3 separate regions of the Homo sapiens genome follow, and regions 1 and 2 are each linked to region 3. The links come from fine-mapping of genetic effects on gene expression. A gene starts in region 3. Each other region holds a variant in brackets. All regions are shown on one strand. Distances are from middle to middle.

Region 1 (8,350 bases), 62 kb after region 3:
GTGCTCCTAAGAAGCATAGCAAAGTCATGACATTACAAGAAAAAGTTGAATTGCTTGATATGCATTGTGGATTGAGGTTTGCAGATGTGGTTGCCTGCCATTTCAAGATAAATTAAGAAAACATAAGGACCATTGTAAAAACAGAAAAGGAAATTCATAACACCGTTGCTGCAGCTATGCCAGCAGGCATGAGAACCTTGCCCTTTTTGCAAAATACCTTTTCATCTCATATTGGAAATGCAGCTTTTATGTGGGTACAGGATTGCTATAAGGAAGTCATACCTGTAAATTAACAGGATTTTTAAAAAAGTGAAGTCATTATATGACAAAGCAAAAGGAAGTTTTTTGGGTTTTTTTGAGATGCAGTCTCGCTCTGCCTCCCAGGCTGGAATGCAGTGGTGCCATCTCAGCTCACTGCAACCTCTGCCTTCTGGGTTTAAGCAATTCTGCCTCAGCCTCTCGAGTAGCTGGGACTACGGGTGTATGCCACCATGCCCAGCTAATTTTTGTATTCTTGGTAAAGATGGGGTTTCACCATGTTGGCCAGGCTGGTCTCGAACTTCTGACCTCAGGTAATCCACCCACCTCGGCCTCCCAAAGTGCTGGGATTACAGGCGTGAGCCACCGCACCCAGCCATGCAAAAGGAAGTTTAAGGATATTAAGCTCAAAAGTTTAGTGCCAGCAAAGGATGGTTTGATAATTTTTGAAAGAGGTTTGACTTAAAAAGTGTCAAGATAACAGGAGAAGCAGCTTCTGCCAGCAAAGAAGGATCAGATGAGTTCTCAGATACTATTAAGAAAATCATTGAGGAGGAATGATATCTGCCTGAACAGGTTTTTAATGCAGACTAATGTGCCCTATTCTGGAAAAACATGCCACAGAAGACATTTATTAGTAAGTAAGGGAAGCAAGCACCAGGATTTAAGGCAGGAAGGGATAACAAACTCTACCATTTTATGAATGCAGTCACATTTATGATCAAGATTGCCCTTATCTATAAAGGTGCTAAACTCTCCCCCTTCAATGCCCTACCCTCCGCAGCCTTGAAGGGAAAAGATAAACACCAGCTGCCAGTCTTTTGGTTGTACAACAAGAAGGTCTGGACAATGAGAACCCTTTTTCTAGATTGGTTCCATCAATGCTTTGTCGCTGAAGTCAGGAAGTACTTTGCCAGTAAGCGACCACCTTTTACAGTTTTTTTGATCTGGCACAATGTCCCTGGCCACACGGAACCCCATGATTCAACACTGAAGGTGTCAATGAGGTCTACTTGCTCCCCAAAACAAGGTTCCTAATTCAACCTATAGATTGGAGGTCATGAGGGCCTTTAAGTCTCATTTCACGTGGGAGGTACTCTGTGGAAAGGAATGTCAACGCTATGGATGAGAACCCCCAATAGAGAGAAACCATGATATGAAGCCGAGATGGCCTTTTAGAAAAGAAAACTATATAAAAATAAAAGACTGAAAGATTAAAACAACAATAACAAAAGGACATCATAAAAGTCTATAAAGATAATACCATTGATTATGCTACAGAAAAAGCCATGAAAGTCATCAAACCTGAAACAATAAATTCCTGATGGAGAAAACTGTGTCCAGATGTTGTGCATCATTTCACAGAATTTATGACAGACCTAATCAAAGAAATGAAAGACGTGGATATGGCCAAAAAAAAAAAAAAAAAAAAAGTGGGAGGTGAAAGGTTTTAAGATATGGATCTTGGAGAAATTCAAGACACCACACCAGAGGAGTTAAGACAACAGGAGAGAGTTGAGTGATTCTGAACCAGTGCCAAATGATGTGGAAGAAGACATAGAAGAAGCAGTGCCAGGAAACAAAATGACATGAGACAGTCTGGCATAAGGGTTCTGATTATTCAAGATCACTTTTGACTTCTTTTGCAACATGGAAACTAAAGCAAACAGTGGAAGATGGATTGTACTGTATAGAAACATTTTTAGAGAAATGAGAAAGCAAAAAAGTCAGACAAAAATTACAGTGTAGCCGGGTGTGGTGGCTCATGCCTATATCTCAGCACTTTGGGAGGCTGAGGTGGAAGGATTGCTTGAGGACAGGAGTTCAAGATCAGCCTGGGCAACATGGTAAGACATTGTCTCTACAAAAAATAAAATTAGCTGGGCATGGTGGCACACACCTGTAGTCCCGGCTACTCATGAGGCTGAGGCCAGAGGATCACTTGAGCCCAGGAGTTCGAGGCTGCAGTGAGCTATGATTGCACCACCACAATCCAGCCTGGGCAATGGAGCAAGATCTTGTCTTGAAAAAAGAAAAAAATTACAGTGTATTTCCAAGTTACACCAAGTGTGCCTGCCTCTTCTGCTTCTGCTACTCTTGAGACAGCAAGACCAACTTCTCTTCTTCCACCTTCTATTCAACATGGAGATAATGAGGATGAAGACTTATGATGATCCACTTTCACTTAATGAACAGTAAATATATGTTCTCTTATGGTAACAAATAACATTTTCCTTTCTCTAGCTAACTTTATTGTTTATGTTCCATAAGGCTTCTGGTCAACATAGGCTATTAGTAGTTAAGTTTGGGGGGAGTCAAAAGTTATGGATAGATTTTCCACTTGTGGGGGTGGTTGGCATTCATAACCCCCATATTATTTCAGGGTCAACTGTACATTGTTGAGCATTTTTGTGACTGCATAAAATGGATGTTGGTCTGTAGTTTTCTTAATTGGAAATGTCTTTGTCTTGTTTGGGTATCAGAGTAATTCTGGCCTCATAAGATGAGTTGGGAATGCTTTCTCGTTTTCTGGAAAAGACTGTAAAATTGGTGTTATTTCTTTAAATGTTCACTTGAATTTCTCATTAGAAACATCTAGGCATGAAGATTTATTTTGGAAGAGGTTTTTTTTTTTTTAATACAAATTCAATTTCTTTAACAGCTACAGGATATTCAGTTTACCTATTCTTGGTTGAGTTTTGGTAGTTTGTAGTTTTTGAGCATTTGGTCCATTTTATCTAAGTTGTCAAATTTATGTGCATAGAATTTTTTAAAATTGTCAATGCAGTCTGTAGTGATATCCCTTTTTCATTTCTGATATTAATAAAATGTGTCTTCTCTGTTGGTCTTGCTGGAGGTTTGTCATTTTTATTGATCTTTTCAAAGAAAAGTTTTATTGATTTTATTTAGTTTTATTGATTTTCTCTTTTTTTGTTTTTAATTTTGTTGATTTCTGCTCTTACCTTTATTCATTCCTTCTTTCTGCTTACCCTGGGATTACTTGTTCTTTTCCTAGTTTCTTAAGGTAGAAGCTTAGATTATTAAGATCTTGCTTTTTAATATTAGCTTTAAAAATCAGTACCTTTTTGTAGCTTATACTTCGTATATTTTATTAATTTGTGTACATGTCTAGATTTCCCTATTTTAATGTTCTGGAGTGCAGGGATCTTATTTTGGTTGGCTAATCTGGGACCTAACTGACTATCCTGTACTGTGTGCTTAGTAAAAATTTGATAGGTGGTTTGAAAAGGAACAGATGGGTGAAAGGGAGAGTAAGTGAAGGTATGAATAAAAGTATTTCAAAGAAGGTTTCAAAATTAAGAAAAATAACAGAACCTAAGAATCATATCCAGGGAAGTGATATCAAGGGAAAAAAGAAAAACAGTTCTGTCATGAGGAAAAATTGCTAATACCAGCCAATTCTAAACTAGTTCTGATAGACTGCGTTCAGAATCTCAAGGTGGCATACAGAACACTCCCAGTACACTGCAGCAATTCTACATAGTGAATAAACAAAGAACTATGTTTCCTAGACAATTCAAGGAAAAAAACATTTTTGACCTTAGTTTTTCAGATAATTTAAGCAAGATAATAATTTGGAGATATTTACCTCCGTGATTTTCTTGATTCCTTCCTTCACTCGTGCTACACTTGATATATATTTCTCTGGTGTTTATTGATTGTAGAGCCTTAGGATAGCCTTTTTTTTTTTTTTTCCTTATTCTGTCTCTTGCTGTCACCTGAAATCATGCTTTAGGCCTCCAGAGGATCAAGCCATAAGTTTTGTGGCTCATAGCCCTCCATAAAATTAAAGCATCTGTGTATTAGTCTGTTCTCATGCTGCTATGAAGAAATACCTGAAACTGGGTAAATCATAAAGAAAATAGGTTTAATTGACTCACAGTTCTGCATGGCTGGGGAGGCCTCAGGAAACTTAAAATCATGGCAGAAGGCACCTTTTCACAGGGCGGCAAGAGAGAGAATGAGTGCCCAGCAGAAGGGGGAAGCCCCTTATAAAACCATCAGGTCTTGTGAGAACTCACTCACTATCACAAGAACAGCAGCATGGGGTTAACTGCCCCTATGATTCAATTACCTCCCACCAGGTCCCTCCCATGACATGTGGGGATTATGGGAACTACAAGATGAGATTAGGGTGGGGACACAGCCAAACCATATCAATCTGTATTAGTTTTCTATAAGTGCTGTAACAAATTACCACAAACTTGGTAGCTTAAAACAACAGAAATTTATTTTCTCACAGTTCTGGAGGCCAGAATTTCAAAATCAGTATAACTGGGCCAAAATCAAGGTGACGACAGGGTGGTGCTTCCTTGGAAAGTTTTAAAGGAGACTGCATTTTTTGTCTCATCCAGCTTTTGGTGTCTGCCAGCATTCCTTGGCTCGTGACTACATCACTCCA[A/G]TCTGCCTCCTTGGCCTTCTCCTCTTTTGCAGTCAAATGTCCCCCTTTCTCTGTCTTCTAAGGACACTTGTAATTGCATTTAGAGCCCTCTTGGACAATCCAGGATAATCTTTCCATCTCAAGATTCTTAATTATATCTGCAAACTCATTTATGCCATATAAGGTAACACTCACAGATTCTGGGGATTAGGAAATGTATAACTTTTAGGAGCCATTATTTAACCTACCACAGCATCTAACAAGGAATCAAGAATACTGATGAAATGGAAAAATGAAGACATTCATTATCTCTTGAAAAATGTCCTTCACAATCTGTATTTTTAAAAATCTTATCTTTTGCCATTTGAAATATTAATATTTGCATATCAAATATTCATATAAATTAATTCAGACTGATATCCTTTATAGAAGATTCCAAAAATGAATTCTAAGGAAAAAGTCCAATTTATCACATATATCAATCCTTTTCACACATAGCCTCATGAATAACCACTTGACACTGAAACATGAATTCAGAAACTATTATTATTTTGGCACAGGAACAAACTTCAGAATCACAGCATGCAGATATCTATTAACTTTTATTCAAGTAAAAGTTTTAAACACCTGAATAACTTATGGATACAAACGGACATCGGTTTCATATTGCTTCCATATGTAGGAACTAGTCATTTCAGCAAATTACAAATAGATCAGGATTTAATAAACTGAATCTGCAGTCAAGAAGAACCTATGATTTAGACTGCATAAATGAACTAAAATGACATTTGCAATATTGTTCAGCATTAATTTGGGTTGATATGGAATTGTCAATTATTTTCCAGTTACAAATAACTGTACATTCTTATAGAAGATTATTTACAACTGACTTACTCTATTAGAGCTCTGTTAACTGAGAGACTAGTCTCTAGTTAGAGACTAGTTTAGGACATTCTAGTCCTAAACTGTAGACATCCTCAATATTCCTCAATATAGATTATTCCACCATTACTTGACACCACCAGACAGGAAGATGAGGATACATAGATATAGAGCTGTTTTGTTTTTAACAATAACATGATACATGCTTTTATTGTATGCCAAATAGGTGCCTGCTAAGGCTTTGTCTATATGTTGTTAATGAATTACTTTTCAATATTTCTCACTTTGATAATTGGTTTCTATATAAGCCATGTAACTAATAACTGTTAAATGTTAATGCCACTATATCACCCACTTCACCATCCAGTATTTTCATTATAAACTCCATACATCTTTTTTATTATAAATTTCACATACATACCATTGATTATTTGTTGCAGTCATCAAAGATTGCTATCCTATAGTAAATACATTTCTTTAAATCATTGCAATTGGAATGCAAATGAAGGATAAATATGATTGTACTTGAGAATAGTAAAATTCATAGAGACAGAATAGTGGTTTTCAGGGGTAGGAGGGAGGAGGGAATGGGGAGTTACTGTTTCATGGGTACAGAGTTTCAGTTTGCGAAGATGAAAATGTTCTGGAGATGGATGGTACAATGGTTGCACAACAATGTGAATGTACTTAGTGCCACTGAATGTACACTTAAAAATCATTAAAATGGTAAATTTCATTACGTATGTCTTGCCACAATGAAAACAAAATGCTTTTGTTTGTTCACTGCTGTTATGATAAAGATCTCAACACCTGACATCCCCTACAAGGCCCAATATGATCAGACCTACCATTCCACCCCGAGGTTTTTATACTCCAGTTACACTAACTGTCTTTTTTCAAGTTATTGATGACACTAGATTCCTTCTTACTTTAAACTTCCCTTAACGTTCTTTCTGGAATGAAATGCTCCTCCTCTCTTTTCACCTGGCCAGGTACTATTACTCATTGTTTTATCCCTCAGCTTACATAGCACTTTCTCCAGGATATTGTCCATGACTCTCTCCAATGATAGATCCTTCTATTTACAATCTAACAGCACCTATACTTCTTTGTTGCACTTATCACAATTATGATTTATTATTCAGTATCTGTCTCCTGCAACATATTGCAAGATCTGTGAGACCAGAGACTATTTTGCTTTTTTTTTTTTTTTGAGACGGAGTCTCGCTCTGTTGCCCAGGCTGGAGTGCAGTGGTGCGATCCTGGCTCACTGCAAGATCCGCCTCCCGGGTTCACGCCATCCTCCTGCCTCAGCCTCCTGAGTAGCTGGGACTACAGGCACCTGCCACGACACCTGGCTAATTTTTTGTATTTTTAGTAGAGATGGGTTTTTACCCTGTTAGCCAGGATGATCTCGATCTCCTGACCTCATGATCCGCCCACCTTGGCCTCCCAAAGTGCTAGGATTATAGGCGTGAGCCACCGCGCCCGGCCGAGACTATTTTGTCTTATTCATCAAACACCTTTCAAAGAGCTGTCATTTAGTACAAGTTCAAAACATATTTATAGAGTTAATGAATCAATACACGAACGAATACATCTAAATGGTAAAGAATAATTCATTAATGAAATAATGAGGGCCGGGTGTGGCGGCTCATGTCTGTAATTGCAGCACTTTGGGAGGCCGAGGAAGGCAGATCACTTGAGGTCAGGAGTTCCAGACCAGCATGGCCAACATGGCGAAACGCCATCTCTACTAAAAATACAAAAATTAGCTGGGCATAGTGGCATGTGCCTGTAATTCCAACTACTTGGGAGGCTGAGACACGAGCATTGCTTGAACCCCAGAGGTGGAGGTGGAAGTGAGCCAAGATCGTGCCACTGCACTCCAGCCTGGGTGATGGAGTGAGACTGTCTCCAAAAAAAAAAAAAAAAAAAAAAAAGTAAGGATTACCACTTAAAAGGTATTTCAAAGAAAAGGAAAATACATAATATGTACTTATCATTTTAAAAATAATACAAATTCCCTATAGAAAACCTGGAAAATCCAGATAAAATATAAAGAAAATAAACATTGCCCTATCTTGCAACTCAGTGGTAATCATTGTTGCATATCTTGGTATATTTCCAATGGCTTCTTTCCCGATTTCAGTGCTACCCACAGGGGAATAAGACTCCTTCTCTTGCTTTTCATAAATACTACAACTTGGAAATCTCTGCAAGTCAATTTTTGAACGTGGGTAGAACCTGTGAATACGATGATACATTACTCCTATGAACACGTTACAAAGGGAGATTATCCAGGTAGGTCTAATCTAAGAAATGGGGACCTCAATCCTACAACTGCAAGGAAATAGATCCTGCCAGCAATCTGAATGCGCTGTGTTAAAATCAGATCAAACTTTAAAAATTTTTAAAAGTTTAGCATGCATACAAAGAACAGTTTACAAACTGGAAGACATCTAACCAAAAGTGGCAAGAAGCCCAGCTCACAGCAGTTACAGTACAGCTTATAAACATTGAGGAAGAAGTATTTTGACCTTCGTTACATTCTTTTTAAGGCGAGTAGAGCTGTTAAGCTGATTTGTCTATAGCTGATTGGTTTAATTTCATTGACTCACACTGTCAAGGACATTTTGTGTTTTGTTTATGTCTAGAGCAAGTGTTTCAGGGAAATAAGGATGACTTAAGTTTTGGCTACCTGGCTATGGGTGGTTGGACTTAAAATATCTAAACTGGAGCCTCTATTTTTATTTATCTTTAACACTTGAAAGAAATTCTTCCCAGAGCCTCCAGATAAGAAGCCAG
Region 2 (8,000 bases), 37 kb before region 3:
CCCTGTTTTCAATTTGTAATTTATCTTCATATCATTATTTCCTTTCTACTTTGGGGGGTTCATTATGTTGTTCCTTTTCAGTCATTCTGAGTTGAATGCTTGACTCAATAGTTTTCAATCATTCTTCCTTTTTAAATACAGTCATGAGCAGTATAACAACATTTTGGTCAGTGACAAACCACATATATGACAGTGGTCTCATAAGATTATAAACACCATATTTCTACTGTACCTTTTCTACTCAGATATGTTTAAATACACCAATACCATTATGTTTTGATTGCCTATGGTATTCAGTAGTCCACTGTATAGGTTTGCAGCCTAGGAACAAAAGGCTATACCATATAGCATAAATGTGTAGTAGGCTATGACATCTAGGTTTGTGTAAGTACAATCTATGATGTTCATACAATGACAAAATCACCAAACAATGCTTTCCTCAGAAGGTATCCCCATTGTTAAGTGACACAGGACTGTATATGCATTTGTAAGTACAGTTGGCCCTCTGTATTAGTGGATTCCACATCTGTGGATTCAACCAACCATGGATCAAAAATACTTTGTTTAAAAAAAGGATGGTTGCATCTGTACTGAACATATACAGACTTTTCCTTGTCATAATTCCCTAAACAATACAGTATAACAACTATTTCCATAGCACTTACATTGTATTAGGTATATAAGTAATCCTGAGATAATTTAAAGTATATAGGAGGGTGTATTGGTTATATGCAAATACTATACTATTTTCTACAAGGGACTTGAGAGTCTGTGGATCTTGGAAACTGAGTGGGATCCAGTAACCAATCCCCCAGATAGGAAGGGACGACTGTATAAAGCTTCCACCAAGAACTGCTTTAGTATAATGTAGGTATAAATTTTTCCTCTAAGTGCTGACATGTTTTCATTATCATTCAATTTTAAATATTTTATACTTTCCATTATAATTTTTCTGATCAATGAATTATTTAGAAGTTTCTTGGTTTCCAAACATACAGGTTAAAATTTTTGGAGGGCTGCCTTTTCATTATTGATTCCTAATTGTATGAAATTTTAGAGTGTGAGCTGTATGACTGTAATTTTTAGTACAGTGAGACTTCCTCTGTAACTCCAAGCTGGTTACATTTTTGTGAACATTCTACATGTGCTTTATTATATGGGTATTATATCTTTTTGACCACAGCTCATTAGATAAACTTGCTAATTGTGTACAACTTGTCTATGTCCTTCCTTTTTAACCGCTTCATCAGTTTCTGAAAGAGGTAGTTTAAAATCTCCTACAATGATTGTGGATTTATCAGTTTCTCCCTTGTTATCCTGTCATATTTCATTATGTTTTGAGTTTTTTAGATGCACATATGGCTCAGGATCCTTTTATTTTTGTAGTGGTGAATCTTTCTCTATCTCTTATGTAAAGAGCCTCATTATTTTCAATAAATCCTTTTAGGCATAAAGTCTATTTCAGCCTTTCTATTTTTGTATCAACTACTAGCTTTTTTTAAAAAGCTAGTATTTGCTTTGTTTTCTTTTTCTATTCCTTCAGATTTAATTGTCTTATGTCTTTTCTTAAAGTCTAATTAATAATGCTATTAATGAAAATGGCTAGAACATGTATGGAACATATACTATTAATATACGTCAAGTACCATTCTAAGTGCTTTCTGTGTATTAATTCATTTAATCCTCACAATTCTGAGGTAGGAATTACTATCTTCCCCATTTTACAGGCAAGAAAACAAAAAATACAATGAAGAAGTCAACTGATAGATATCTTGTCTGCCTGAAAATACGAGGACCTTAAAATATTGTCTAAAACATCGTAACTCTTATCTGTTGCCTCCTCACCTTCCATGATAGTTTTTCACCCGCCCTCCAATTGTTTGACTTTTTTTTTTCACCCGCCCTCCAATTGTTTGTTTTTAACCTGCCCTCCAATTTTTTTTTCACCCGCCCTCCAATTGTTTGACTTTTGCTTTATAGTCAGCAAAACTTGTAATTAGATTAACATGTTTGCTAATTCACTTTTTCATCATTGCTTTTTGCAATTCCACTCCTTTATCTGAGGTTCACTTTACCTCTTAGAGAAGTAACTTATTTTGTAGTTATTTTAAGAGAATCTGTGAGTGGCAAACTCTCTGAGACTTTGTCTGAAAAATTGTATTTCATCCTCACTTCCTGGATAAAAACTCAACTGTGATTCTTAATTGATACTATTATTGCATTTTCTGCTGGAGTCTACTGATATAGATAAGTTTATCAGTCTGTTACTCTCTTGTAGGTACTATCTTTTCTCTGGTTGCCCTTAAAATTTTGTCTTTGATGTTCTACATACAGTTTTATCATGATATAACTAGATGTGGATCTGTTTTACTTTACCCTGCCCAGACTTAGCATGCTACTCTAATTTGCAAATTCTTATCTTTCCTTAATTATGAAAAACTGATAGTCCTTATATCTTAGAATACTGCCTATGGACCATTCTCTGTATTTCCTCCTTGTAGAACTCCAATTTGGCAGATGTTGGAGAGTCTTATTCTGCCTATCATTTCACTTTATTGTTTTATCACATTCTCCTTTTATCTCTCTGTACTATTATATTGTTATAGTCTGAGTGATTTTTACAGATCTATTGTCCAGTTAACAAGTACTCTCTTCGACTATGCAAATTTGTTGTTTATTCTTCTACTTTCATTATTAAATAACAAGTCCGAAGTGTTCATGGGAGGAAAGGGGAAAAATTTTCTCTTTCTTCTTTTCTAAAATGCATACAACTGACCCTTGAGGAACTCGAGGGTTAGGAGTGCCAAATCCCCCATGTAGTCAAAAATCCAAGTATAACTCTTGACTCCCCAAAAACTTAACTACCAATAGCCTACTGTTGACCAGATGCCACAAAGTCAATTAATACATATTTCGTGTGTTATATGTATTATATTGTGTATTCTTACAATAAAGCTAGAGAAAAAAGTTATTAAGAAAATCATAAGGAAGATAAAATATTTACAGTATTGTAAAGTATTAATACCATAAGCTTGTCATCTGTTTACAAGATGAACTGTCAGAAATGGTGAGGAACTACAGCTGCAGACCTTAATCTACAGTACATATCAAGTAATTCATCTTTTTCTTGTAATGTCATGATTTTTCTCTGCTCATTGGGAGCACTTCCAGCATCACTAGTGGCACTTTATGTGGGTTTCATGGTGTTAGTCAAGGTTTCCAGCATAGCCCTAAACATGATGAAAAACATACGAGAACCATGAGATCATTTTTTACTGCAATACACAATTTACTTGAGAGACACATTACTTGTGCAGAGATTATCAGCATCACATGGTCAAGCAGATACTTGCAACACTTGAGCTCACTACAATAGCAACAGGAGGTAGCTATGAAATTATTACAGTAGCACAGTATGTACTAGAGTTAATTTTATGCAGTTATGATTTAGTACTGCATCTTTATATTCATTTACATTTCTCTCAGCTGCAAATGGGACTGTGTAGGGTCTAAGTGTTTGTATGCATTAGTTTTGATAAATTTTATTTTTTATAATAAATTTGTGTATGTTTTATGGTAAATGATAGACTAGTAGCTACATATATTTTATGCATCCATGGCATAGCCAACTTTTTTTTTTATATTTACAGTCTATAAAGTTTGTCTGCAGGGTTTTACAAATTGTCACAAAACTCCAAAAAATTTTCCAGTATGTTTATTTGAAAATAATCTTCATGTAAGTGGACCTGTGCAGTTCAAACCCATGTTGTTCAAGGGTCAACTGTAATAGTCTGGAGAAACTTGCTATGGGTTGGAGGAGGGCAGCAAAATAATGTACATACAAATTAAAAAATACATAAATGATACATAACATACACACATACATATAGAGTTATGTGTCACTTAACTATGGACATACATTCTGAGAAATGCATCATGAGGTGATCTCATTGTTGTGCAAACATCGTAGGTGTGCTTATACAAACCTCCATTGTATAACCTACCACACACCTAGTGTATAGCCTATTGCTCCTAGTCTACAAACCTGTACAGCATATTACTGTACTGAACACTGTAGGCAATTGTAACATATTGTAAGTATTTGTTTATCTAAACATATCTAAACATAAAAAAGCACAGTAAAATACGGTATTATAATCTTACAGGACCATCATTGTATGTGGTCATTTGTTGAACAAAACATCATTATGTAGTACACGACTATATCATGTACTACATATAATTGTACATGCTACACTTTTATATGACTAGCAGCGAGCTAGGTTTGTTTACACTGGCATCACCACAAAAATGTGAGTAACGTGTTGTGCTACAATGTTATGACGGCTACCGGGCAACTAAGCAATAGGAATTTTTCAGCTCCATTATAATCTTGGGGGACCCCTGATGTGTATACAGTCTGTCACTGACTGAAATGTTATTATGTGCTGCATGAACGCATCTGTTAAATGTATAAACTAAAGAGTTGAAACAAATCCCATGTTTGGCCAATGTAGAATCTAAGTAGAAGGAAGACATAGAACTAAATTTTTCATCCTTTTATAACTACAAATGGATTTAAATATAATATTAAGTCTTCTGTTCACATAGTACATGGTTCAAATGTACATAGAAAGTACATATAAATATCTGGAGGAAGATTATTCCAGGTGGAGAGAACTGCAAGACCTTGTGGCAAGAAGGGGCTCAGCATGACTGACAAATAGCAAGAAGGTAAGAGTGGCTAAAGTAGTGTAAAAAAGGGGTAGAAAATGAGGCAGATGAGGTGTTTGGGTGTTAGATGGATATATGGCCTTCCATGTCATGATAAG[G/T]GTTTTGGATCTTATCATAAGTGTGATGGGAAGTGAGTAACACCAAAAATGTCCTTGAAAATGTAATTTAAATTTTATATTATGTTTTGTATAATATTTTAAAAGTGGGAGTTGTTAAGAGATTATGACCTCATTTAGAATTTAAATGACTTCATACGTCATATTTTCTCATTTATTTTGAACTTAAGTTACTTCCTAAAAATCAAGCTTTTTTATTTTTAAAACATGTACAAGATGACATATTAGGATAAGCAATGTAATGATTACAAATGACATAATCTCATACAGAATTCTGGACAAAATTCTGTTTCGAGACTTCTATATGTGAGATATATATATTACAGCACATATGAAACATGTATGTGCAGTCTGATGAATAACTAGAGTGAATCAGTGTAACCACTATGTAGGTCAAAAAACAGAACATTGCCAGCACCTCTGAAACCCTTGCTATCTGACTTTTTAAAAAAGAGCTTACTTAGGACTATAATCTGTGATAATTATCTACTTAAATGCCAACTGAAATCATGTGACCAATCTTTTTATGGGCAAAAGGAATGTCCCCTTAAGTCCATACTTAATTTCAATATGGAAATTGAGTACATATCAACTTAAAATCTATTCACATTTCAGTATAGGGATGTACAATCTCTAAGGCATTTATTTTTAATTAAAAAGATATATCATGCATATAAAAATAGAACTATGAAACTTAAAGTGTATACATTTTCATACATTTTAGGGAAAGAGAACCTAATAGTAACAGCTTTAGGATAAAAAGCATTTGATTAAAGTAAAATTAAAGACATTCAAAACTTTAAGATCTCATTATGTGTTACATTATAACAAATCAGGTAAAATGAGACTTCTTTTTTCTGGGTAGCTTCTAGTATATGCTTAGCACTCATTAAATGTTAAACAATAAAATGTGAATTAGGCTAATCACAGTATATCTAAAGGATACACTATTAAATTTGAGCCTATTTAAAATTTTAATTATAAAACTACATGTCACTGATTCATAACCTTTCTCAAAAAAAAAAAACCCCACGGAATCGAGATTTGTGTTTTTAAATCAATATTTTAGCAATGAACTACCAGAGGACAACAAATATGTATGGTCAAAATTAAAATTAAACTAATAATATTTTAAAATAAAGAATTTCATATTAAAATTAGATTTTTCTCTATGGAAAAATTCTACAAACCTTTTGTAAATACATTTGAAATAGTCAAGAAAAAGAAGGGAATGAAATATAATAAATAAAGATAAGCTATATAAAGATATACTAAATGTGGGTAAAACTCAATGGAAACCATGGATAAAAATAACATTTAGAAGTATCACTCTTAAGTTGTAGTGCAGCAGCACCTGAATTATGCTCCCTTTAATTTATGCACATGATGGATAGCTTGTTAAGGGGCATATCTGTAACCATTATAATTGATAGTAGCTGAAGGCAAGTCAGGCCATAATTTCTATTTAATGGATGGGATAGTAAGGGAACAAAGCCTGCAGTTGCATTTTAAAATAAGTGCCAAAAGTTTACATTTATGTCCAAAGTAATACCTATATTAAGGTATTAAATTATTTGAGAGAAGAGAAAAATCAGCTGTAGCAAGATCCATACATAATTAAATCACAATTTTGATTTGGCCAATAACTAGAAAAACCTTACAATAAGTAGAAAAGAATGTTCAACTAACCATTTGATAGTCCATTTCTGTGCTTTTGCTCTTCAGAACTTGTGGGAGAAGCAAATAGACTCATTTGACAAGTTCCAGTTGTTGGAGAATAAGTTATAACACTTTTCTTCCTTGTGATTTTTGAAGGATCAAATGACTGGAAATAAATAATAATTAAGGACAGAAATAGCTATGTTTAGTTATAGATCTTTGAAATTATATACCATTAAAAAATCAGCAAAATTCAAACTTGTTTCCTTGCTCTTGCTTTTCAGATTACAAATATACTCAACTATCACTCTCAAAGTAAACACTATTCTTTCAAGGTAGATATTTCAGGTCTCTATAATAACTAGAACATCTCAATTTGATATTTACTAAATTTTAGCATTAAAGGGTTACTACCTTCTGAGATGGTATTTCCAAACAGGTTAGAGATGGCCAACTCTCCCAACCATACCCTGACTTTTGCTTTCAGCTGAACTTGAAGTATAATTATGGGGCCAGGGCAGGAAAACTCTCAGAGGTGCCTATTACTAAGCCTCACACAGAAACCTTAGGAAGGATCACTGCTGTCCTACAGCTTCACAAAGTGGTCTGATGTAGCATCTTGCTTCAATAATCACCAAAATAATGTCCAAACAGTTGAGTCAGGCATTTAAGGCCTTTGAGGATTTGGCCTGTCTTACAAATTTCCTCTTAGCAGCTTCCTCCTTTGTGTTTCCATAGGTGTTGGGCATACCTCTTATTTCAGGTAACATATTTTAATAAGTTCTGTCTGTTCCATTAGAATTTGCTCCTGAAAATAAATATTATCTTTTCATCTTTATATCCTAGAGAACTAAAAAATGTGTGAGGAACGAATGACTTACAAGGAACAGTCCAGTAAATTTGGCCATCTTGCTCTACTCAGAATATACTAATTTGTTCACTGGTTCATACATCCAATTATTATTCACTGTTACCTACAGCTTCAGTCACTAGGCTATGTGCATTTGGGCCTCAGATCATTTTGTGATCTCAGCTTGGAACATCCTCTTTTTTATCTTCCCCAAGACCTAGACTTTCCTTAGTTTAGGTCCTCATTCATGATCCCCTTCCTTCAAACATCCATTATCATACTATTAATTGTTCCCTTTCCTGAATTCCCTTAAAACTTGCTTTCCATAAGCTTACTGATCACCCACCAGCACTGCTAAATGTGTACTAATGTGTACAAAGAAATATAACAAATTGCTCTGGCCTTAAGGAGTATCTACCAAAAGTTAGAAGAACAACAAAGAGGTTTTAAATTAGTATGCATGCTACGAAATTCAGAGAAGAGGAAAAATTCAAAGTTGGCTGCAGTAGTCTGTCACAGAAAAAGGCATGAGAAATCTGAAATAAGAGGTGGAACAGACAGCATAGGATGGATCTGGGGGATATAGGAAAGGTCTGATGGCTCATACATTGCCAACATACTGGATATAGCTTGGTAGAGGA
Region 3 (8,000 bases):
TACTTTTTAAAGGAAGCTTTATAAAGAAAAGGTAGAAGAAGAAAAAAGGTCTAGAATGGGATTTGATTACTTACAGCAAGAGCTACTAAAAAGACATGTATCTGTCTACATAGAATGAAATCTTTCCAAAGTAGCAACTTTATCATTCAATTAATAAATACTTATTGAGCAACTATTTTATCAATGAGGACACTGAGTAACAATCTAAGGAGCACACAGCTGGTTAACAGACTCAAGATTCAAATCCTGGTTTGTCTTACTCCAAAGTCCATGATTTTTCCACTTCAAATCTTTAAAAAGTGAAGGTTTCAACCTAGATAGAGAAATGACTGTGCCACTAATTTCAGAATGTACACAGAAAGAGGAGCAAGATTGGAAGGGAAGATGATTAGCCTAATGAAACCAACAGCAGCATTTATCTAATTCATCTGTTTCCTCCAAAGGATCAAAGAGAAGGCAGAGAAAGCTACACTTAGGGAGGACTTAAGATAGGTAATCTCTAAATCCTTTTAAAAAACATTTTAAGTAGTACATACTAAATGAATAAATGTAATACTAATGAATAATGGATACTAATGAAAAAATGTAAGCTGTGCAAGTTATAAAACATTAGAAAATAAGCACGCATAAACTCACCACATAATTTAAGAACTAGATCATTACCAATATGACTGGGTATACATGCATCTATTTGCTTCCCCCAAAAGGCATCTATTAAACTGTATTTATCATTTCTCTGTATTTATCATTTCTCTGCCTTTTAACAATAATCTTATCATATACATATATAACCATAAGTAGCTTATTTTTGCGTGTTCTTAAGTTTTATAAGGATAACAAATGTAGTCTCATACAAATTGGTTATTTCACTCATTATGTTAAGATTCATCCATCCGCTCTATTGTCACTGAACATTTGCTGTTTCTTATTTATTTTAGATTCATTTGGACCATATATATTTTCACAACTACTCATTGTTGTATTGAAGTTTTTTCTGCTCAAGGTTCTAAGAAATTAGAAAAAAGATAGATCACACCCTCCCGTAAGTTATATTACACATTTAGTCTTCCAAATACATACCAAATAGTCACCATTTCAACATCACTTAAAAATGAATCCACCTGCATATGTAACTTGCCAAGATAACTATTTGCACCACTCATTTATGACCTCACCAGTAACCACATTAAAAAAAAAAAAAACACTTAATTTACTAACAATGATGGAGATTCTCTACTAACATGCCATTACGTTTTATGCATTACTTAACTGTTGATTTAGTCTTAAATCACTTTGCTAAAACTTAGAAAATTAGCAAAGTAATTGCTAGTTTCACATATATATTAGCTATATATGTGAGATGTTAACCTCAACTTTAAGGTTGTGTATTTATTACCAGAATATACTTATCTAAAAGCCTAATATAACATCTTGTGTGCATATGTTAGGAAGACAGTTGTCAAAAAGGTCCACTTTTAGGCCTGACACAGTGGCTAACTCCTATAGTCCCAGCACATTGGGAGGCTGAGGTGGAAGGATCACTTAAGCCCAGGACTTCAAGACCAGGCTGGGCAACACAGGGAGACACTGTCTTTACAAAATAAAAAAATTAGGCATGGTGGCATGTGGGAGCCCAGGAGGTAGAGGCTGCAGTGAGCTGTGATCACAGCACTGCACTCCAGCCTGGGCAACAGAGCCAGACTCTGCCTCAAAAAAAGAAAAAAAAAGTTCCACTTTTCATAGTTTTTTGGTTCCCCACTCCTATACACAGATACACACAGTTCAGGAGGTATTACCACTTGTTTGGCAAATACACCTCTGTTTTCACTGTATTCTTAGGGATTTTGTGTGTGTGATTGTGTGACATTATCTTTGCAGCTTTGTTTATTTGAGAACTGGATGATTTTTCTAATGCAAGAGTAGGGAAACAAGTCTCTTTGCTTAATTCTGGGGAAAGGAAAACCTCCTCAATAATCCATAACTTTTAAGGGCATCAGTAAAACATGCATTTATTGGCAGCTGTGTTGAACACCCTATTAGGTGATGGGTTTCTTTATCTGTAAAGATAATAGCAGCCCCCATCCCCTAAAGTATTTTAGGATTCAATGAAAAAACGTAGATAAATTGATTAATACAGCACCCACATTGTAATTCAAGATTCAATAAATATAGGTTATCATTTCTGTACAGCTTTCCCCTTTCATGTCAATTCCTATTTGATACAAAAATTTCCCCAGCTGTGTTACTTTGCATTTTACTTAATCCTGAAATAAACTAAGGAACAGGTTACACTAGAGGGGGTACCTAAATCAACCTGAGGACAAGGACGGCCAAGGAGAAATTACAGGTGTTTGATATCCACCCCACTCCCCCAACCTTTAATGGCTTTTTTAAGTTTCTATAGGGTAGCAACTATTTTATGCATCTCAATATAGGATGGATGAAGGATATGAAAAACAGATGAATCTTATCTAGCACAATGCCTATTCCCACTATGGTCATTCTCAATAATCAGATTATTGGTCATAGATGGGAATTTAGAGATCATGCAGTACAAACTTATTTGTGTAAGTAAAAAAAAACGAAGCTCAGGGTCGATAAGTGACTTGCCCAACAGTGAAAGAGTCTTATCTGGAATCCAGGTATCTAGACCCACTCAGTCCATGAGTTCTCCCACGGGTTTACACGAACGCGCCACATTAATGAAGGCAAGGGACTGACAAACTACGAAGGCGTGTTTTCATCTACTCTGTCCCATCCTGTGTGTCAACCTTATTTATGTTATTTCAAGTTAGACATCACCTAAATACAGCCCACAGTTTACGAAATCTGTCAAAAGCATCGTAGAAACAGAAAGCGAAGGAGGACTATCGTATGAGTACCGCTGGAGGAGACGTAGAGTTGAGGGTACCAAGCGAAGGGAATTGCCTGTGGACAGAGGAGACAAGTTCATACTCCGAAAAAATAGGAAAACGAGAAAGGCTACTGGGCCACATAATATCTTCTCTTCTTGCAGAGGGCCCCCAAAACAGCAATACCTGGGGAGGAGATACCTACGGCATTCTGAGATTCGGGAAAGCACCACTGCCGCTGAATAAAACGAACCCAGCAACTTCCGAAAACAGAAAATCCGCCAAAGGAAACGCCAAGGCATGAAAAGCGCGCGCTGGACGTTGCGTCAAGCCCACCGCGGCCGGGCGGAAACATCCTCCCCGCGACGAAGGATCCGGGTGTGCGCGAGCAAAGGAGCGAGCGGGGAGTTCTAGGCCCAGGACAGCACCTATTTCCTGCTGGTGTAACAGAGCACCTTCTCTCACTACTCTGGCCATACCACCCCCGCGATAGAGGAGCAACACAGCTGTCTCTGTGCGCTCCGGATCAGCGCTTCCTAGATTTCTAGCCGGATCGTTTGGAGAAGGGCTCTGCATCTTATTTCCGGTGGCGGTGAGGTGCAGTTGCCATGGTGATTAGAGAAAGGCCGAGATCTGTCCAGCTGCGGTGAGAGGAACGCTGAATCGCCGAAGAGAATTGGCTGCGCTTCCTTGTTTGTGAGCTAGAATTAGGTAGCAAACAGCTCGCTGTCTCTGTCTCTTCGCTCCCTCTGTCCCTCTCTGTGCAGCTGCTTCTCCTTCCTCTGCTTTGTCTACTTCTCTGTCATAAACATTTGGTCCATGTATGTACCTAAAATGTACATGTAAATGCGGTTTTATTTCCAGAGGAATACAAAAATAGAGAGATGGTGCCCGAGATTACCTGTGACGGTATTTCACTGTGTAGGGACGGTGACTGGACGGCTTTCTGTTTTCACTTGGCCCTGTAGAAGCCTTAGGCGCTTGTTAACAGTTTATTTTTCTTGCTATTGTGTGGCTGGTTATTTATGGAGCCGTTTGCTGCAATGTACTCTCTAGGCCCCTGTCTCAGTCTCGGGCCGGAGTTTTAAGTAAGGGAGGTTTCCAAGCCTGCGGGGGGTGCAATTATATGTTTATTTAAGCTTTAGTTTGGTTTCTCGTCACAGAAAGGAAAAGAATAAAATTCTGGCACATTTCTGCCTTGGGATTTCCATGTGAGGGAGTTGCCTTGTTTGGAAAGAATATTTGAGGACGATCCTAAAATATACTTATATTTTAAAATTGCTTATTGCAAAGTGAAATTCATTCTCCCTTACTTCTTGAAACAGTTTTCTTTCACATTTGTGAGGAGATGCATGCACACATATGTGTTTAGAACTCTGATGCTTAATTATAGTATTACCAATTTGCAGTAACCAGACTGTGACACCACATCCCTGTGGGGTCCTTCTAAATCTGGTGTAATATGAAAGTGTCAGGCAGGCGGCCTGCGTATTATAAATAGGGTACTTCATCCATGATAAGCAATTATTATCTTTCTTTCCCAAGTGTAAATGATCTATATAATTCGAAAAGGTGCAAGTGATTTAGGCCTCCTGAGTAGGAATGCAATGAGTCCTGAAGGGGACCCTACCTGTGTTATCTTATTATTGAACTTGAAATATTCAATTTATTAGGTTGGAGATCTATTTTTAGAAGTCAAAGCTGGGTAGAGTAATATTGGAAGCTGTTAGACCACCAGTAGAATCTAATACCCCATAGTAACCATTGTTCAGTACTATATCCACATTAACAAAGAAGAAACTGTTCGTGAAATTTACGGCTTTTTGCCACTTACTGCTAGCTGGGTGACATTGCTACCCCTCAATTTCCTCATCTGTAAAACGGACAAAAAAATACCTGACCGCTGTAATAGGGATAAGACAAGATGTATGACAGTTCTTTAAGCTCTTATGTACAGAGGTGCTATACAAACCCCAAATATTGTTATTAATAAAGGAACACAGTAAAACTATGATAATGCTATAAATAAGACTTTTAAAATATAGCTATTTGAAATGTGGGGCTGCATTATTGAGATGTTAATGAAATGATCTTGTTGATCCTGCTGTGGAAGATGGGTGTCAACTACCACTCATATCCCGATTCTCATTATTCTGGAGTTTCTCATTATCTGCAGTTTATTTAGCACTTACTACGTGTCAAGCAATATTGTATATGCTTCACATGTATTAACTGATTTGCTCCTCTTAAAAACCTGATGAAGACTGTCATCTGACTTTCGTATTTTGAGAGAATAGATGTGTGCTCTTCCTTTGTTCAGTGATTCTTCTCTTGTGTATATCTTTGTTCTTTTGGCTATTATCACATATTTGAACAATTATATATATACATATGTATATATCTAAAATTAGAAATTAACTGCCAAAGGCTTATTCTTGTTTAATATATAATACGTCCATATACAACTATAGTATTCGTCTTTTACTTCCACATATAAAACTTTTAATATCTTGATCTTTTCATATATGTTATAAATTTTCTTCTATGTATAAAATCTTGATTCTCCTCCCTGTATTTGAAAGACATGGTGACATTTGTGTTTTAGTGACTCACATTGACAAACACATTTTTAAATTATTTTCCAATAGAATGGCGATCAGTCCACGAAGCGATGCAACTTTCTCCAGTCAGAAATCAACACCTTCAGAGAGTCCTCGAACAAAGAAATTTCCACTAACTGAAGAGGAAATATTTTATATGAATTGTAGAGCTGCCTACTTAACTGTCTTCAAAAGCAGCTTGGAAAACATTATTTCTAAAGATCAACTTTACTTAGGTAAATTTTTAAAATTTTTAAATCTTTCACCTTTTTGTTGAAAGTTAATAAATAGGTCCGAAAGACTGAAATTAGAATTACCTTGTTGAATCATCCCAGTTTCTTAGTGAAGCTTGAGCAATGGAACTACAGTAAGCTATTATGTCATATCATATAGTTACATATTCTAGGAACTACAAAATAAAACTTTCAATGTTTATACAAACTAGATGGGTAATTGAAAGCTTCTATCAATTACTACTTGCTTAAGATACTTTTAATTCTCATTTTGGTGCTTTAAGATTTATCATAATAAAATTAAAACGCTTTTGGCCTCTTAAGTCACTAGCCTGAATTTGACCCATACTGAGGAAAGTGTAAAGGATGTGTAAAAATGGGTGGAATGTCTGAAAAAGTGAAGTACTGAGAGATAAGTGAACTTTTAAAAGAGAATTGAGTTGGGGTTTTTTTATTTCTTATTTTTATTTTTTGTTTTGTCTTTTATTGCTTCTGTCCTTTATCACATTTAAAAATTCCTCTCATTACAAAGGTCCCCAAAACCACCAAATTTGGTTCTTTCCAGGAGTATCAAATGATTTGGACATCTTTAGTCATGAGAGAGTAGTAAACAACAGTACTAGATAACACTGACTACTCATGTCAGTTTCATCAAGGCTAATAACTTTATGGGTAGAGAAACTGAGTTATTTTGCCAATTTTATAATGAATTTTCTTAAACCAAAACCCTGACATATTTGTGCAGCAGTGTCTTGAGTTTGTATCCAATAAGATCTATTTGAGGAAATGTATTTTGAGGAATACAAGAATTGACAAGATTAAAATTTATTTGATGTCTAAATAAAATACATTATTTGTAAAGTAGTTTAAATGCAAATGCACATGACTGACTTTTAAAGTCATGTTTAATTTTGATTTACATAATTTTAAAATTACTAAAATGCTCTATTTTGAATTTTAAGTATTTGTGTTTAATTCATATACATTAAATGTTTAGGCAGACATCCAATAAATTTTTTTTTTTTTGAGACGGAGTCTTGCTCTGTCTTCCAGGCTGGAGTGCAGTGGCGCGATCTTGATTCACTGCAGCCTCTGCCTCCTGGGTTCCAGCGATTCTCCTGCCTCAGCCTCCTGGGTAGCTGAGATTACAGTTGCACGCCACCATGCCTGGCTAATTTTTGTATTTTTAGTAGAGACGGGGTTTTGCCATGTTGGCCAGGCTGGTCTCGAGCTCCTGACCTCAGGTGATCTGCCTGCCTCGGCCTCCCAAAGTGCTGGCATTATAGGCGTGAGCCACCACGCCTGGCCAATAAATTAAAATTACTTCTAATTTGCCATTATTTCTAAAATAATCCGAGTTTTTTTTTGTTACTGTTTTGAAAATATACTAAGAGAAGGAATCTGCTAAGTTTAAAAGTTTAACATGCCTTCCACTACTATGGCATTTAGTTTGTGAATCAATGTGTATGTATTACTAAGGTGCTATCAATCTTATGAAATTATCTGGGAGGATAACTATACAGTGTTTGTCTCTTCAGTGTTATATACACTTTTGGTTTTAGGGTGGAATACTCTCTTAACGTTGTAATAATTGATTTTAGATAAACTATTTTTTAAAAAGGAGTAACATGAACTAGAGCTGCTGCTTCTTGCTACACCTTTCATCTATATCCTTCTGCCACTTATGTGCATTTCCATTTTAAGGTCAGAGACAGCGGTAGCATTACTATAGCTTTAAGTTCCTTTTTTGTCAATTTATAAATAATACAGGATTATAGATGCATGTCAGAACTTTAAAGTAAACCCTGGCAAAAGATCCATATCATGGTGTCAAAATTTAAATATCTACAGCTACGTGATATTTTTACTATCATCAAACTTAATCATTAGATCCAGCTAATTCTAAACCTAGAGATTAAAGTTAGTAGGAAATAGATTGTATCAATTTCTTAGCTATGGGGACATCTGCTTACTGAGTACATGTTTTGGCATAATTAATTTTATTCTGAGAAAGTTGTTCTTGTCTAATTACCAGTACATTTTTTAAAACAATATTTTCTTTGTTACTAAAGATAGCAGCAAGCATATGCTAAGCTACCACTTGTGAGAAAAAGTTACATACCTTTTTTCTCAAAACTGAACAGAAGATATAATTTTCTTTCATGTGGACTTCAAATGCTGGCAAGGATGTGGAGAAAAGGGAACCCTCTTACACTGTTGGTAGGAATGTATATTAGTACAACCACTGTGGAGAACAGTTTGGAGGCTTCTCAAAAAACTAAAAATACAGCTACCATAGGATCTAGCATCCTACT

The links. PIP is the estimated chance that this variant, and not a neighbour inherited with it, causes the effect.
Region 1: its variant is fine-mapped to the expression of ITGB3BP in whole blood (INTERVAL, PIP above 0.99).
Region 2: its variant is fine-mapped to the expression of ITGB3BP in whole blood (INTERVAL, PIP above 0.99).

Annotation. Positions count from the first base shown.
Region 1 is chr1:63,582,269-63,590,618 of GRCh38, forward strand. It overlaps a transcript of EFCAB7 not described here. Among named protein-coding and RNA genes, the nearest start is that of PGM1, 7.0 kb to the right of the region's middle. The variant A/G (reference allele first, on the strand shown) is at 4,682.
Region 2 is chr1:63,483,544-63,491,543 of GRCh38, forward strand. It overlaps ITGB3BP (integrin subunit beta 3 binding protein), which reads right to left. Exons shown (of 9, transcript NM_014288.5): 3 at 6,540-6,675. It overlaps LOC102724319 (a long non-coding RNA gene), which reads left to right and starts at 4,410. Exons shown (of 3, transcript XR_426701.4): 1 at 4,410-4,734. The variant G/T (reference allele first, on the strand shown) is at 4,833.
Region 3 is chr1:63,520,072-63,528,071 of GRCh38, forward strand. ITGB3BP (integrin subunit beta 3 binding protein) reads right to left here and starts at 3,154. Exons shown (of 9, transcript NM_014288.5): 1 at 3,058-3,154. The coding sequence starts at 3,062. EFCAB7 (EF-hand calcium binding domain 7) reads left to right here and starts at 3,454. Exons shown (of 14, transcript NM_032437.4): 1 at 3,454-3,563; 2 at 5,501-5,688. The coding sequence starts at 5,502. RefSeq lists enhancers at 2,553-3,176, 3,338-3,417.